Linked DNA regions of Homo sapiens: region 2 is linked to region 1. The links come from fine-mapping of genetic effects on gene expression. Tissue or cell type: whole blood. Region 1 holds a variant in brackets; the other region holds the start of a gene. All regions are shown on one strand. Distances are between the middles of the regions.

Evidence for each region. PIP is the estimated chance that this variant, and not a neighbour inherited with it, causes the effect.
Region 2: it holds the start of SEC14L1, and the variant in region 1 is fine-mapped to the expression of SEC14L1 in whole blood (TOPMed, PIP above 0.99).

Annotation. Positions count from the first base shown.
Region 1 is chr17:77,189,015-77,196,269 of GRCh38, forward strand. It overlaps SEC14L1 (SEC14 like lipid binding 1), which reads left to right. Exons shown (of 17, transcript NM_001143998.2): 4 at 1,789-1,938; 5 at 2,167-2,298; 6 at 4,407-4,535; 7 at 5,663-5,897; 8 at 7,188-7,255. Among named protein-coding and RNA genes, the nearest start is that of SEC14L1, 52 kb to the left of the region's middle. The variant G/C (reference allele first, on the strand shown) is at 3,524.
Region 2 is chr17:77,136,351-77,143,605 of GRCh38, forward strand. It overlaps SEC14L1 (SEC14 like lipid binding 1), which reads left to right and starts at 4,619. Exons shown (of 17, transcript NM_001143998.2): 1 at 4,619-4,757; 2 at 6,296-6,400; 3 at 7,217-7,255. The coding sequence starts at 7,247. It overlaps LOC105371901 (a long non-coding RNA gene), which reads right to left and starts at 5,089. Exons shown (of 5, transcript XR_934988.3): 1 at 5,006-5,089; 2 at 169-394. RefSeq lists silencers at 3,903-4,112, 4,263-4,472, 4,483-4,932, 5,097-5,391.

The DNA.
Region 1 (7,255 bases):
TAAAAGCACATGAAATTTACCATCTTAACCATTTTTAAATTTCAATTGTGTGTCAAAAGACAAAATTACAAAAAAATTTAGTGTATGGATCTTAATTGGCTTTTTTGATTCCAGAATCAGGCAACACCTCATTCTATAAAACAGAATTCTGTGAAATAGAATGAGTGTTCTCATGAGCTGAGCAGGGGAAGCTGGCTTTGTAGACAGAAAAGGGGTGAGGGAAACAGACACAGAGAACAGAGAGCAGATGGGTGGTTTCAGAGTGACTTCCCTTGTAAAGGTTAACGCAGAGGGGACTTCCTTACCACGCTGGCCCAAACTGGCCCATTTGGGGGATTTGCTGTTCTCTTTCTCCTGACTTCTTGCAAAGTCAGATAAACAACTTACTTTTGGCTTGGTGGTATGGAGGTTACCAAGAGGGACTCCATTTTGGTTTGGTCTGCTGGGCCTGGTGCAGGAGCTCAGTCCAAACCAGTGTTCTCCTGGCTCACTGTATTTATGTTGAGTTTTAAGAATTTTTTATGTATTCTAGGCACTAGTCCTTTGTCAGATACATGGTTTGTAAATCCCTCCTCCCATTTTGTAGTTTGTTTTTTCATTCTCTTAACAGGGGTTTTGTTTTGTTTTGTTTTGAGATGGAATCTCACTCTGTCGCCCAGGCTGGAGTGCAGTGGCGCGATCTCGGCTCACTGCAAGCTCCGCTTTCTGGGTTCACGCCATTCTCCTGCCTCAGCCTCCTGAGTAGCTGGAACTACAGGCGCCCGCCACCACGCCCGGCTAATTTTTTGTATCTTTAGTAGAGACGGGGTTTCACCGTGTTAGCCTGGATGGTCTCAATCTCCTGACCTCATGATCTGCCCACCTCAGACTCCCAAAGTGCTGAGATTACAAGCGTGAGCCACCGCGCCCGGCCTTAACAGGGTCTTTCGCTGAGCAAATGTTTTTAACTTTGAGGAAGTTCATTTTATATATTTTTTCTCCTGTGGATTGTGATTTTGTTGTCACATCTAAGAATTCTTTGCCTAGCCCAGGATCCCAAAGATTTTCTATTTTTTTTCCCTAAAAGTTTTAGTTTTGTGTTTTACATTTAAGTCGCTGATCTTTGAGTTAATTTTTATACAAGGTGTGAGGTTTAGATCAAGATTCATTGTTATTATTGTTTCAGCCTATGGATGTGTAATTGCTCCAGTAACATGTTGAAAAGACTGGCGTGCTTTCTTTCCCTCATTGCTTTTACATCTCTGTTGAAAATCAGTCGGTGTTCCCTGACAGGTGCAGATACTAAAAAATAAATCAGTTGGGTGTATTTGTTTGAGTCTATTTCTGGGTTCTGTATTTTGTCCCATAGATCTGTATGTCAGTTACCCCTCTCCTAATACTAGATGGTCTTGATTACTGTAGTTATAGAGTAAGCCTTAATACCGGGGTGACTGATTCTTCCCAGTTTATTCATCTTTTTCAAAATCGTTTTAGTTGTTCTAGTTCCTTTGTCTTTCCATATAAATTTTAAAACAATCTTGTCTATAATTACCACAAAGTCTTGCTGGGGTTTTGTTAGGAATGATGTTACTTATGGGGAGAATTGAGATCTTTACTAGGTTGAATCTTCCGATCCATGGACATGGAGTGTCTTTTTCTTCTTTAATGAAAGCTTCAGATGTGAAGACAGTTGTGGCGCTGCCTGTTGCCGTGCACCGAGAGGTGCTGTTCCAGGGAGAACACAGTCAGCGGCAGGACATCAGGTTGTGTCTTTGCTCACTTCTGCTTTCTTGGTTTTTAAATTTATAGGCCTATGAAAGGAGGTTCCCTACATGTCCTTTGATTCCGATGTTCGTGGGCAGTGACACTGTGAATGAATTCAAGAGCGAAGATGGGGCTATTCATGTCATTGAAAGGCGCTGCAAGCTGGATGTAGATGCACCCAGACTGCTGAAGAAGGTAAAGGTCGGAAAGGACGTCTTGGAGGGAAAGGGCGTCCTGGTGGGAGAGGGCGTCCTGGTGGGAGAGGGCGTCCTGGAGGGAGAGGGCATCCTGGAGGGAGAGGGCGTCCTGGAGGGAGAGGGCGTCCTGGAGGGCAGCCCCCAGAGACAACATGAACTTATACTATAGCTTCTGTGCTATTGGTTGTTATTAATAAACCCATTTCTCTTTCTTTTTTTTTTGAAGATTGCAGGAGTTGATTATGTTTATTTTGTCCAGAAAAACTCACTGAATTCTCGGGAACGTACTTTGCACATTGAGGCTTATAATGAAACGTTTTCCAATCGGGTCATCATTAATGAGCATTGCTGCTACACCGTGAGTAATCTGTCACTCGGCGGAAGATGTTCTGCCGACATATGGCTTCTGAGGATTGTTTGATCACCATTTTAAACAGTGCATCTTTTTGTCTTAGAGGGCAGTTCTTCATTAGATGTTGTCACTCATTTCTCATGTGTAGGAGGAAGGGTAGCAGGTGTGGTCTCCTGCAGAGTGTATTATGTTGTCGTGGCAGTTAAGGCAGCCAAGTGATGCCTTGATTTGGTTTTGTTTTTTTTTTCTTTTTTGAGACACAGTCTCCCTCTGTCGCCCAGGCCGGAGTGCAGTGGTGCAATCTCGGCTCACTGCAACCTCTGCTTCCCGAGTTCAAGTGATTCTCCTGCCTCAGCCTCCCTAGTAGTTCGGATTACAGGCAAGCGCCACCACGCCAGGCTGATTTTTGTATTTTTAGTAAAGATGGGGTTTCACCGTGTTGGCCTGGCTGGTCTGGAACTCCTGACCTCACGTGATCCACCCCTTGGCCTAATTTTTTTTTTTTTTGAGATGGAGTCTCACTCTTGTCACCAAGGCTGAAATGCAGTGGCACAGTCTCAGCTCACTGCAACCTCTGCCTCCCAGGTTCAAGTTATTCTCATTCCCCAGCCTCCCAAGTAGCTGGGATTACAGGCACTCGCCACCACGCCCGGCTAATTTTTGTATTTTTAGTAGAGACAGGGTTTCACCATGTTGGCCAGGCTGGTCTCCAACTCCTGACCTCATGATCCGTCTGCCTCGTCCTCCCAAAATGCTGGGATTACAGGCGTGAGCCACCACGCCTGGCCTTAAATATTACATTCATATGCCACTTCTTTTCTGGTCTTACTGTAATATGTTAGAAATATCTAATGAAGGACTAAGATGTGTGCCTTTAAGAATAGTGCCGAGAGTGTTTGTCTGTCTCAGTATCTTCACTGCTTACCACCCTGTTTCAAGAACTTCTTTTATCAGATTTTTAGAATACTCTCCTGACAGATTGCTGTATTTCTGCCCTTCTCCCCTGCAGTGTATCCTTAACACTGAATTCAAAGTGATCTATTTAAAGTATGTCAGATTAAGTCACTTCTATGGGCTCAAAACCCTGGAGTGTTTCCACAGTTCGCCCAGAGGAAGAGCCCATAGTCTTTATGGTGACTTGCAAGGGCCTGAGTTCTCTCCTGGTTACGCCTTTCCTGTCCTTGCTGTCATGCAGTGGGCCTCCCCCAGGGGCTTTGGCTCCAAGGTGCTC[G/C]CTGTGCCGTGCTATTCTTCCCTACGTCTCTAGTCTCACCTCCTCCCATCTCGGCTCAGGTCACCCCTTCTTGGCCAGCCCCAGCCACCCATTTAATTCTGCAGCCTGACTCCCCAACCCCCAGGCTTTTTTTTTTTTCTTCAGGGATGGGATCTTGCCCTGTCGCTCAGGCTGGAGTGCAGTGGAACAATCAGTTCACTGCAGCCTCCACCTCCCAGGCTCAAGTGATCCTCCTGCCCCAGCCTCCCAAGTAGCTGGGACTATAGGCACATGCCACCGTGCCTGGCTAGTTTTTAAATTTTTTTGTAGGGATGAGGTCTTGCTCTGTTGCCCAGGCTGGTCTCAAACTCCTGGACTCAAGTGATCCTCCCACCTTGGCCTCCCAAAGTGTCGGGATTGCAGGTGTGAACCATCATGCCTGACCCCCATCCCTGGTTCTTTTAGCCTGTGCTCCAAGTTTTCTTTTTTCCATAGCACTTACTTATCTTTAATTTCCTTGCATACTGTGTTTCTGGCTGATTGTCTCCTCTGTTAGACTCTGTTGAAAGCTTCCAAGGCCAATACCTCTTTGTTCATGATGGAGAAGACTGTTCAGTGAGTATGTTGAATGAATGAATGAAGCAAGAATGAAAATGAAGCTCTCCTTTTATAGTCATCTTTGAAATGTTTTTGAACAATTATTTGGATCTCTTCATGATTTAGAATGTGCTTTTGATCCTGATTTTGAACATGATTTTGGCATTTTTTCCATCTGCTGTCTTTATGGTAGTAGCATTGTTAGTAACGTAAGTGTTTTTTTCTGGTTACTGGTTAAACTGAGGAGCAGGCAGATGATATTCTGTTGTCAATTCAGTCAGTGAGAGTGCTTTCTCTTTATCTGCAGGTTCACCCTGAAAATGAAGATTGGACCTGTTTTGAACAGTCTGCAAGTTTAGATATTAAATCTTTCTTTGGTTTTGAAAGTACAGTGGAAAAAATTGCAATGAAACAATATACCAGCAACATTAAAAAAGTGAGTGTATCTTGGGATTTTGTGGCAGAGGGTGGGCAGGAGTCTCTGAGATGACCATCTTTTTGGAAGGCTGGGGATGGCTTAGCAAGGGATTTGCAGCATTTCTTGGGTGGAAGATGCTATGATCCCTACCCCCTGCCTCATCTTTAGGTATAGGGGTTGAGGTTGTGCTGGTTGCTGATGGAGGAAGGAGGTGCCTGTAGCTCTAGCAATGGCACTGTCTGCCTGGAGTTGCTGAGAGAGTTAGAAGTTGGGGAGAGGCAGCAGCAGCTGGCACACAGCCCCCAGGCCTTGCTGCAGGATTGGGAGGAGGCCTGGGGGCCTGGGGAGGTGCTTGCCGAGCAGGCTGCCCCCCTTGGATTGTCAGTTCTTCCACAGAAGACCTTCCTTTCTCGTTTTTGTGCTGTTGTTCATCAGTTGTTAGGGAATTGTGGTTTTGAAATCTATCCGTGTGGGATTATGGAGTGGTTTTTGAAGGCTCATTTTCAGGGTACTGTGTTGGAAAGAATTGAAATTGAGACAGAAATCATATATTGAGTACAAGTACCCTAAATCAGCATTTTAAAATAGTCATATAAAAATTCCATCTCATTAGATACCATTTCCTAAACCTTGGAAAATAACAAGTAAAATAAACAAAAACACAGAAGCATTTGGCCTTTTCTTTTTTTCTATTAATTTTGTAGCAATTCAGTTTTATTGGTGTTTTAAAAGCTTGTGAGGGACTGGGCGCACTGGCTCATGCCTGTAATCCCAGCACTTTGGGAGGCTGAGGTGGACAGATTGCTCGAGCCCAAGAGTTCGAGACCAGCCTGGACAACATTGCGAAACCCCGTATTTACAAAGAATACAAAAATTAGCCGGATGAGGTGGCATATACCTGTAGTCCCAGCTACTGGGGAGGCTGAGGTAGGATGGCTTGAGTCCAGGAGGTCAAGGGTACAGTGAGCTGTGATCATGCCACTGTGCTTTAGCCTGGGCCACAAAGCGAGACCCTGTCTCAAAAAAAAAAAAAGATTGTGAGGCTCACCATCTTCCGTTGGCTAGAAAAAAAGAAAAATCTTGGGAGAGATGAGTAATTTGAATGTTGAATATATACTCACCTTTAAATTGGTTTTGTTTTAAAGGGAAAGGAAATCATCGAATACTACCTTCGCCAATTAGAAGAAGAAGGCATAACCTTTGTGCCCCGTTGGAGTCCGCCTTCCATCACGACCTCTTCAGAGACATCTTCATCATCCTCCAAGAAACAAGCAGCGTCCATGGCCGTCGTCATCCCAGAAGCTGCCCTCAAGGAGGGGCTGAGTGGTGATGCCCTCAGCAGCCCCAGCGCACCTGAGCCCGTGGTGGGCACCCCTGACGGTGGGTCTGGCAGGGGCTTCATCCCGAGAGCAAGGCTAGGGAAGTCGGCGTTGCCGTTTTCTCTCTGTTTGCTCTGCCTGTTCCCGCTTCCTTGGAACATTAGATAACTCAGAAAGGAAAGACCCGTCTCTCGTTTCTGGCCCTTGTCCTCTCGCTTATGTAATACATTCATTTTACCTTTTATTAGATTTTTTGTTAATAGGAAGGATTATATCAAGTTATTTTTATTCTTTTATGGATACCAGAAGGTGTTTGTTTGTTTGTTTAAGAAATGGGGTCTCACTGTGTTGCCCAGGATGGTCTTGAACTCCTGGGCTCAAGCAATCCTTCTGCCTCGGCCTCCCAAAGTGCTGGGATTATAGGTGTGAGCCACCACACCTGGCCTAAGGAAGGTGTTTTTTTTTGTTTGTTTGTTTGTTTGTTTTGAGATAGAGTATTGCTCTGTTGCCCAGGCTGGAGTGCAGTGGTGCCATCTTGGCTCACTGCAACCTCCGTCTCCCGGGTTCAAGTGATTTTCCTGCCTCAGCCTCCCGAGTAGCTGGGACCACAGGCATGTGCCACCACGCCTGACTAATTTTTTTATTTTTTTATTTTTGAGATAAAAAAGTCTCTGTCGCCCAGGCTGCAGTGTAGTGGCACAATCTCGGCTCAGTGCAGCCTTCGTCTCCTGGGTTCAAGTGATTCTCCTGCCTAAGCCTCTTGAGTAGCTGGGATTATAAGCCTGCACCGCCACGCCTGACTAATTTTTATATTCCTAGTAGAGACGGGGTTTCACCATGTTGGCCAGGCTTGTCTTGAACTCCTGATCTCAGGTGATCTGGCCACCTCAGCCTCCTGAGTAGCTGGGATTACAGGCGTGAGCCACCAGATTTCTTACATTCTCCAACACAGTAGCTCCATTCAAAATAGATTTAGATTTGCTTGGCTTTTTTTTTTCCATAAATTTTATATCTTGCAAGTCCTTTTTGTGTTATGTTCCTCTTGGAATTAAAACAGTCATTAATATCTATTATAGTCATGAATAGTATTGTGATTTGGCAATAGAGGTAACTCAGTGGTAATCAGGGAAAGATAATTGAGTCAGAAAGTGTACCTGTGGTTTAGTCAGTGATTTGATCTCAGAGCCTATCCCTCAAGTCCTCTAAGGAATCTGGTTTACATCTGCCATCTCTGCGGTTTCATGTGCCTCTAGGACTCTAGGACCACACGTTAACTCCACTGAGCACAAAGACTTTGGGAGCCTAAAGCTCCAGTGTTCTTTGTTGTAAATAAATGTCACTTACATTCCAGACAAACTAGATGCCGACTACATCAAGAGATACCTGGGCGATTTGACTCCGCTGCAGGAGAGCTGCCTC
Region 2 (7,255 bases), 53 kb before region 1:
CTTTCTTTTTTCTTTCTTTCTCTTTCCTTCCTCCTTCTTTCTTTTGAAATTTTTCAAACACACATTACCACTACATTTTAATAGTTTGATTGTATCCTTGATGAGAGAGATTGTTAGTCGCCACCAATATTATACATCCTTTGCTTCTTTCTTAGCAACAGAACTCACCGTTTGTAGCTGGGTGTGTGGTCACTTGGCACAGGCTACATTTCCCAGCCTTCTTTGCTCTTGGGTGTGCCCATGTGATTAAGTTCTGGCCAATGGGAAGTATGTATGTTTGCTTATGGGTGTGCACGCATGTGTGTGCACGTGTTTGTACATGCATATCATTTCCAAGGAAGCGTCGTTCGGGGAGCAGGTTTGCTCTTCTTCACCCTTTCCTCCGACTTGCTGGCTGGAGGGGGAAGACACACTGTGGTAATGGCAAAGTAGCAACACAGAAGGGGCCCGTGTTAGGCCATTCTCGAATTGCTATAAAGAAATACTTGAGACTGGGTAATTTATAAAGAAAAAAAGTTTAATTGGCATTCTTAAGAGAAAGCAATAATTTCTTTTTCTTTCTTTTTTTTTTTTTTTGAGACAGAGTTTCGCTCTTGTTGCCCAGGCTGGAGTGCAATGGTGCGGTCTCGGCTCACCGCAACCTCTGCCTCCCAGGTTCAAGCAATTCTCCTGCCTCAGCCTCCAGAGTAGCTGGGATTATAGGCATGTGCCACCATGCCTGGTTAATTTTGTATTTTTAGTAGAGACGGGGTTTCTCCATATTGGTCAGGTTGGTCTTAAACTCCCAACCTCAGGGGATCCACCTGCCTTGGCCTCCCAAAGTGCTGGGATTACAAGCGTGAGCCACCACGCTCAGCCACAAGAAAGCAGTAATTTCTTAGTATCATTATATGTTCAAATAGTGCTTAAGAGGTTCCACAGGCTGTTCAGGAAGCATGGCGCTGGCATCTGCTTAGCTTCTGGTGAAGCCTCAGGGAGCTTTTAGTCTTGGTGGAAGGAGAGAAGGGGGAACAGGCAGGTCACATGGTGAAAGCAGGCAGAAGCTCCAGAGAGTAGGGGGAGGTGCCACCCATTTTTAAGTGAGAAGATCTCATGTGAACTTAGAGAGAGCTCACTTATGGCCAAGGGGATGGCCCAAGCCATTCATGAGGGATCTGATGACCCAAACGCCTCCCACCAGGCCAGACCTCCAACACTGTGGATTACAATTCAACATGAGATTTGAGTTCAGACTATCTCAGGGCCTACATTCCTGATCATGAGGAATAAGACCACCTGCATCCACACAGCTTAGCCATCAGGACTGAGACCTAAGATCTCTGTGTCAACATGACTTACTATTTGATCCAGGAGATTCTTGTTCAGGAATATTAGACTGTAAACCAATACGTGCTTTCACTGTTTGCCTCAACAAATTCCTGAAAAAGCATTTATTGTAACAAAAGATTGCTTATCTTTACATATAACCCCCTTCTCTGGATAACAGTATAACCACCCAAGGGGTTCACCTTCCCTGCTGCCTAGAGAGAGCTGATTCATCAGGACAGGAGGATTGCAATAGAGTCATTCACACAGAGCTGGCTGTGCAGGAGATTGGAGTTTTATTATTACTCAAATCAGTCTCCCTGAACATTCAGGGAGCAGAGTTTTTAAAGACAACTTGGTGGGTCGGGGGAGGCCAGTGAGCCAGGAGTGCTGATTGGTCAGGGAGGAAATCATAGGGAGTCGGAGCTGTCTTCTTGTGCTGAGTCAGTTCCTGGGCGGGGGCCACAAGATCAGATGAGCCTGTTTGTTGATCTGGGTGGTGCCAGCTGAGCCATCAAGGGGAGGATCTGCAAAATGTCTCAAGCACTGATCTTAGGAGCAGTTTAGGGAGGGTCAGAATCTTGTAGCCTCCAGCTGCATGACTCCTAAACCATAATTTCTAATTTGTGGCTAATGTTAGTCCTACAAAGGCAATCTAGTCCCCAGGCAAGTAGGAGGTTGGTGGGCAGGGTGCTGTGGTTCACTCCTGTAATACCACCACTCTGGGAGGCTGAGGCAGGCAGATCACAAGGTCAGGAGTTTGAGACCGGCCTGACCAACATGGTGAAAGCCCGTCTCTACTAAAAATAAAAAAATTAGCTGGGCACTCGCCTGTAATCCCAGCTACTCGGGAGGCTGAGGCAGGAGGGCAGGAGAATCACTTGAACCCAGGAGGTGGAGGTTGCAGTGAGCCAAGATCGTGCCACTGCACTCCAGCCTGGGCAACAGAGTAAGACTCCATCTCAAAACAAACAAACAAACAAAAAAACAAAAAAAACCTAAGGAAAAAAATAGCAAAAAGTAGCCAGGCGTGGTGGCACATGCCTGTAGTCACAGCTACTCAGAAGGCTGAGGTGGGAGGTTCACTTGAGGCCAGGTGATGATGCTGCAGACGGCTATGATTATGCCACTGCCCTCAAGCCTGGGGAACAGAGTGAGACTGTTTCAAGAAAAAAAAAATGGAAATAAAGTTTTTTGTGATTGGTTGATGTCTCAAGTCTGTTTTTTCTTCAAAATGTTTAACTGAAGTATAATATACATATAAAAGCTTGCAAATCATAAATGAATGTATGGCTCAACAAATTTCCCAATCTCTTTTAATCTATAGATTGACCATTCCCCTCTTTTTTTCCTTTGGAATTTGATAAAGAATATATTTGTCTTGTACCGTTTCCCACAGTCTGTACTTTGCCAATTGTTTTTCATGGTGTCATTTAGCATGTTCCTCTATTCTGTATTTCCTGTAAACTGGTGGTTGCATCTAGAAGTTCAGCAGGTCAGGTGAATTTTTTTTTTTTTTTTTTTTTTTGACACGGAGTCTTGCTGGAGTCCAGCCCAGGCTGGAGTGCAGGGCAGGTGGCGTGATCTTGCCTCACTGCAACCTCTGCCCAGGTTCAAGTGATTCTCCTGCCTCAGCCTCCCAAGTAGCTGGGATTACAGGCATCTGGCACCACACCCGGCTACTTTTTGTATTTTTAGTGGAGACGAGGTCTCACCGTGTTGACCAGGATGGTCTCAAACTCCTGACCTCAGGTGATCCACCCACCTAGGTCTCCCAGACTGTTGGGATTACAGGCGTGAGCCACCGCAACGGCGTTAAAGCGTCTTTTGAAGGTGGATGTGATTTTTTTTTTTTTTTTTGGGACGGAGTCTCGCTCTGTCGACCAGGCTGGGGTGCAGTGGCGCGATCTCGGCTCACTGCAAGCTCTGCCTCCAGGGTTCACGCCATTCTCCTGCCTCAGACTCCCAAGTAGCTGGGACTACAGGCGCCCGCCACCACGCCCGGCTAATCTGTTGTATTTTTAGTAGAGACAGGGATTTCACCGTGTTAGCCAGGATGGTCTCGATCTCCTGACCTCGTGATCCGCCCACCTCGGCCTCCCAAAGTGCTGAGATTACAGGCGTGAGCCACCGCGCCCGGCCGGTGGATGTGATTTCTACAAACAAGCAAAAGCCAGTCAGACTGAATGTAGTGAATAATGTAGGTGACCCAGCTGGAAGATGATGGTTTGACGTGGAACACAAGGGGTGATGAGGCCATGAATGATTTGCTTGTGTGTCTGGTAAACTGGCTTTGATGGAAATTCCTAAACAGGTCCAAAAACGTTCTGTCCAATGGCAGCATGAAATGTACAGCCACTCAGGGTGACTAATGTGAACGGAACAACAGTGACTTTGACAGTGAAATTGCATGTTGGTTATAAAACCAGCTTTGCTGTGTGGGTGGGCATGCGAGGTGCCCCTTTCTAGTCATGAGCTCCTCTTAAGGACCCCAAAATGTCTCAGTGGTACCGGATTGAAAATTGGGGCTGGACGGTGCTCTCCTGCTGAAATTCGGGAGCTACTTAGCAGCCCCACCTTGGCACCCTCGTTTCCGAGGGGCAGGCCCTGGGCGCGCGTCTCAGTTTCAAGCCCGCGGCCCGACACTAGAGCCGTCTGGATGTGTTGACAAGGATGCCGCTGGGCTCCACCCGGGCTCACCCGGGCCCTCCCGAGCCCTGGGCCGCGCAGCACCGGCGTCCGCCTCCTCCCCATTACTCGGCGAGAATGCGGTCGGGGCACTGGCGCGAGCAGCCTGGTGCTCCTGAACAGTCAACAAGAAATGAGGAAGCACGGGGGCAGCCGCCAGGGCGACCAGAGGCAGGCCTCAGAGCAGCAGCCATACGGGAGGGCCCCGGTGGTTTTGACCTCCCGCAAACTTCCCTTTTCCCGCTCAGCCGAACCCCTCCCCTGCACGCCGGCAGCCCCTTGGGGCTTCACTCCGCCTCCGCCCGCTACTCGCGAAGCCCAGCCCGGCCCCGCCCCCAACAAGTGACGCAAAACTGGGAGGGGCCACGAGGACCTCGGGCACATCCAGCAGTGCGACGGGGCCGGCGCCTTCTCCGAGCTCCTCCCACGCTCGCGGGTCGGAGCTCGCGCCTGCGCAGTTCGGGCCCCGGGTGTCCTCCCCCCTCCCCTTTCTTAGCAACCATCGCCCGCTCCCGCCCCCGCTCCCTCGGCCGCGGCCGCGCACGCGCGCCCCTCCCGGCGCCCGGCCCCGCCCACCCCGTCACCCGTAACAACCACAAGTGCCGTCGCCGCGCCCCTTCCCCCTCCCGCCTCCCCGGCCCCCTCCCCGGAACCGGCGGTCGAGCTACGGTCGCGGAGCAGTGGAACCGAGACTGCCCCGCGGAGCCGCCGGTATGAGCGCCCCTCGCCACCCCGTGTCCCAGGCCCGGCCTTTCTGACAAGAGGTAGGCGCGTCGTCGCGGCGGGTCCGAGTGCGCCCTCGCCCCGGTCCCGGTCTCCGTGGAGTCCGGCGCCTCTCGGGCGGGCCCCCCGGAACTCCCGGCCGCCCGCTTGCTGAGCCTGTCCCTCCCCAGCCCCGGCTGCCATCGGCCCGGCACCCGAAACGGGCCGTGCCCCCGCCCCCCTGCTCGCCCTCCGCCCCCCTGCTCGCCCCTCGCCGCCCCTCGCCCCCCTCCCCCGCCCCCACCCCCACCTCGCCAGGCTTCCAGTTCCCGGGAGCCGCTTTTTGCTGAGAGCGGAGTTTCGGGTCCGGAGCCAGTGCCCGCCCCTCTCTCCCGTCGGTCGGGGCTTTGGCCCCGTGGGGCTCAGCCGCGCGGGACCCCTGCTGAGCAGCCCCGGGCGCCGGCCGCCCCTCGAGCCTGCTCGGGATGCGTTCAGTGGGTCTGGCCTTTGGCTCCTGTTTAAACAGCGATTGTCATGCAATGGAGGCCGTCCGGCTCCTGGATGCCACTTGGTCGTTGTCACTCCGGATGCCCGCGTAGGGCGTTTATCTGGACCAGAGCATCGGCAGCTGAGACCTGGCTGTGGTTCACAAGCTCGTGAATTAGCAGGTTCTTAAGTGAGTGTAGCCAGTTCTGCCAGGCGGTGGAATCCTGAATGGATGTTACCGTTTCTTAAACGAGCATTACGCTTTTTTGCTTCTTCCCCCAACTCTTGTTTGTACCCGGTTATCGTCCTCATATCTGGGAGAGTACCCTAAAATTAATATTCCCAATTAAATTTTTAAAAGATGATTGGATTCCCACTGTGCACCAACACTGTAAGGTTTGCAAAAGAAAAAGAACGTGGTCCCAGCACATCAGGATGTGTCAGTCGCATAATCAAGATGAATATTAGAAAAGCTTCAAGTTGAGTTTGGAGAACTTGGGAGTTTGGCTCTCATTCTCATGGTTTTAGAGGTGGAAGTCTTTCAAGATCATCTCCCCGAAAACCTCATTTTACAGAGATGAAACTGAGTCCTAGGGAAGTCAAATGGCTTACTCGTGGTCACCCAGAGTCATTCCTTAGCCGTTTTCACACTGTCAGATGGCGATGTTTTCCACCATGACCTCTCCTCTGAGAGGTATGCCAGACATACCAGAGAAAGTTCCAAACCTGTTTAAACCTTAGTACTATAGATGGGAATTCTATACCAGGCGCCGTGACTCATGACTATAATCCTAGCACTTTGGGAGGCTGAAGTGGGCAGATCCCTTGAGCCCAGGAGTTTGAGACCAGCCTGGGCAACATGGGGAAACCTTCTACAAAAAATATATATGGTGGTGCGTGCCTGTGGTCCCAGCTACTTGGGAGGCTGAGGCAGGAGGATCACTTGAGCTTAGAAGGTGGAGGCTGCAGTGAGTGGAGATTGTGCCACTGTGTTCCACCTTGGGCAACAGAGAGACACCCTGTCTCAAAAAAAAAAAAAAAAAAAAAGGAATCTTGGAAGTTTCTGAAATAAAATACATCTTGGTAATTTGTCTCTCTCTTTTTTTTTTAACAGCTAGACTTCGGGCTCCTTGAGGATATTCAGTTTTGTATGTTTGAATATCCTCTCACCATGTTCAGCATAAAGTACCATTCTTAATGATTATCCTCAACAAGACAGGTAGGCTCATTCGATTTTTCTTTCTCACTTTAAATAGGGGAGACAGAGGACTGGCAAGTCCAGGTGTGTTTTTAGAGCAATCCGTGTAGGCTGGCGCTAGAGAATGATTATGCACCCATAAGGAGGGCTCCTTGACTGTGAATTAGGTGTGAACATTTAACCGATTACTTACGGATATTAGCTATCTGAGGCTAGAGATTTCAGTGGAGCCTGTTTAGCCAGAATACTTGGCATCTCTGCCACTCGAAGACAGGTCGCCAAAGCTGTAGTGTACACAGTTAGAAAATAGGAATTGACACGTTTCCTTTGAAGCTAGCTTTTGAGGAGTATTCCATAGTTTGAGATACAGTAGTATTTTTTTCCAGTTTTATTTTTGTTTTCCCAGAGCTAATATCTTAACACGAGATCATTTTTATTTGGCTTCTAGTAGAAGTTGTTTAAGAGAAAATGATCCAAGCATTAATTATATTGGTTATTAGAATAATAGAATCATAACAGTTCATTGCTGGAAAGGACTCAGGTCAGGTCATGTAATGAATGCAGAGTCCCAGTAAGCCAATGAGAGGATTGGACCCCTCTCACACCAGTACTGTTTGCCTCATTGCATTGGGGCTTTGTCTGCTTTTTCTTATTGTTTAATTACCTCCCCCTGCCCTCATGTATTTAAATATCATCTTTTCATTTTTGTGTGCATAGAATTATGACCTATTGTGGTCTCTTTCTGTCGTTAGAGTGTGGTATGATGTGTCAGTGCAGACTTACTAATAATTTGTTTCTGCATTGTGGTTACTTATCACATATATTTATGTTTTGCAGGTGTGAGAGGGTTGCTGTTGTATTGCAATCATGGTGCAG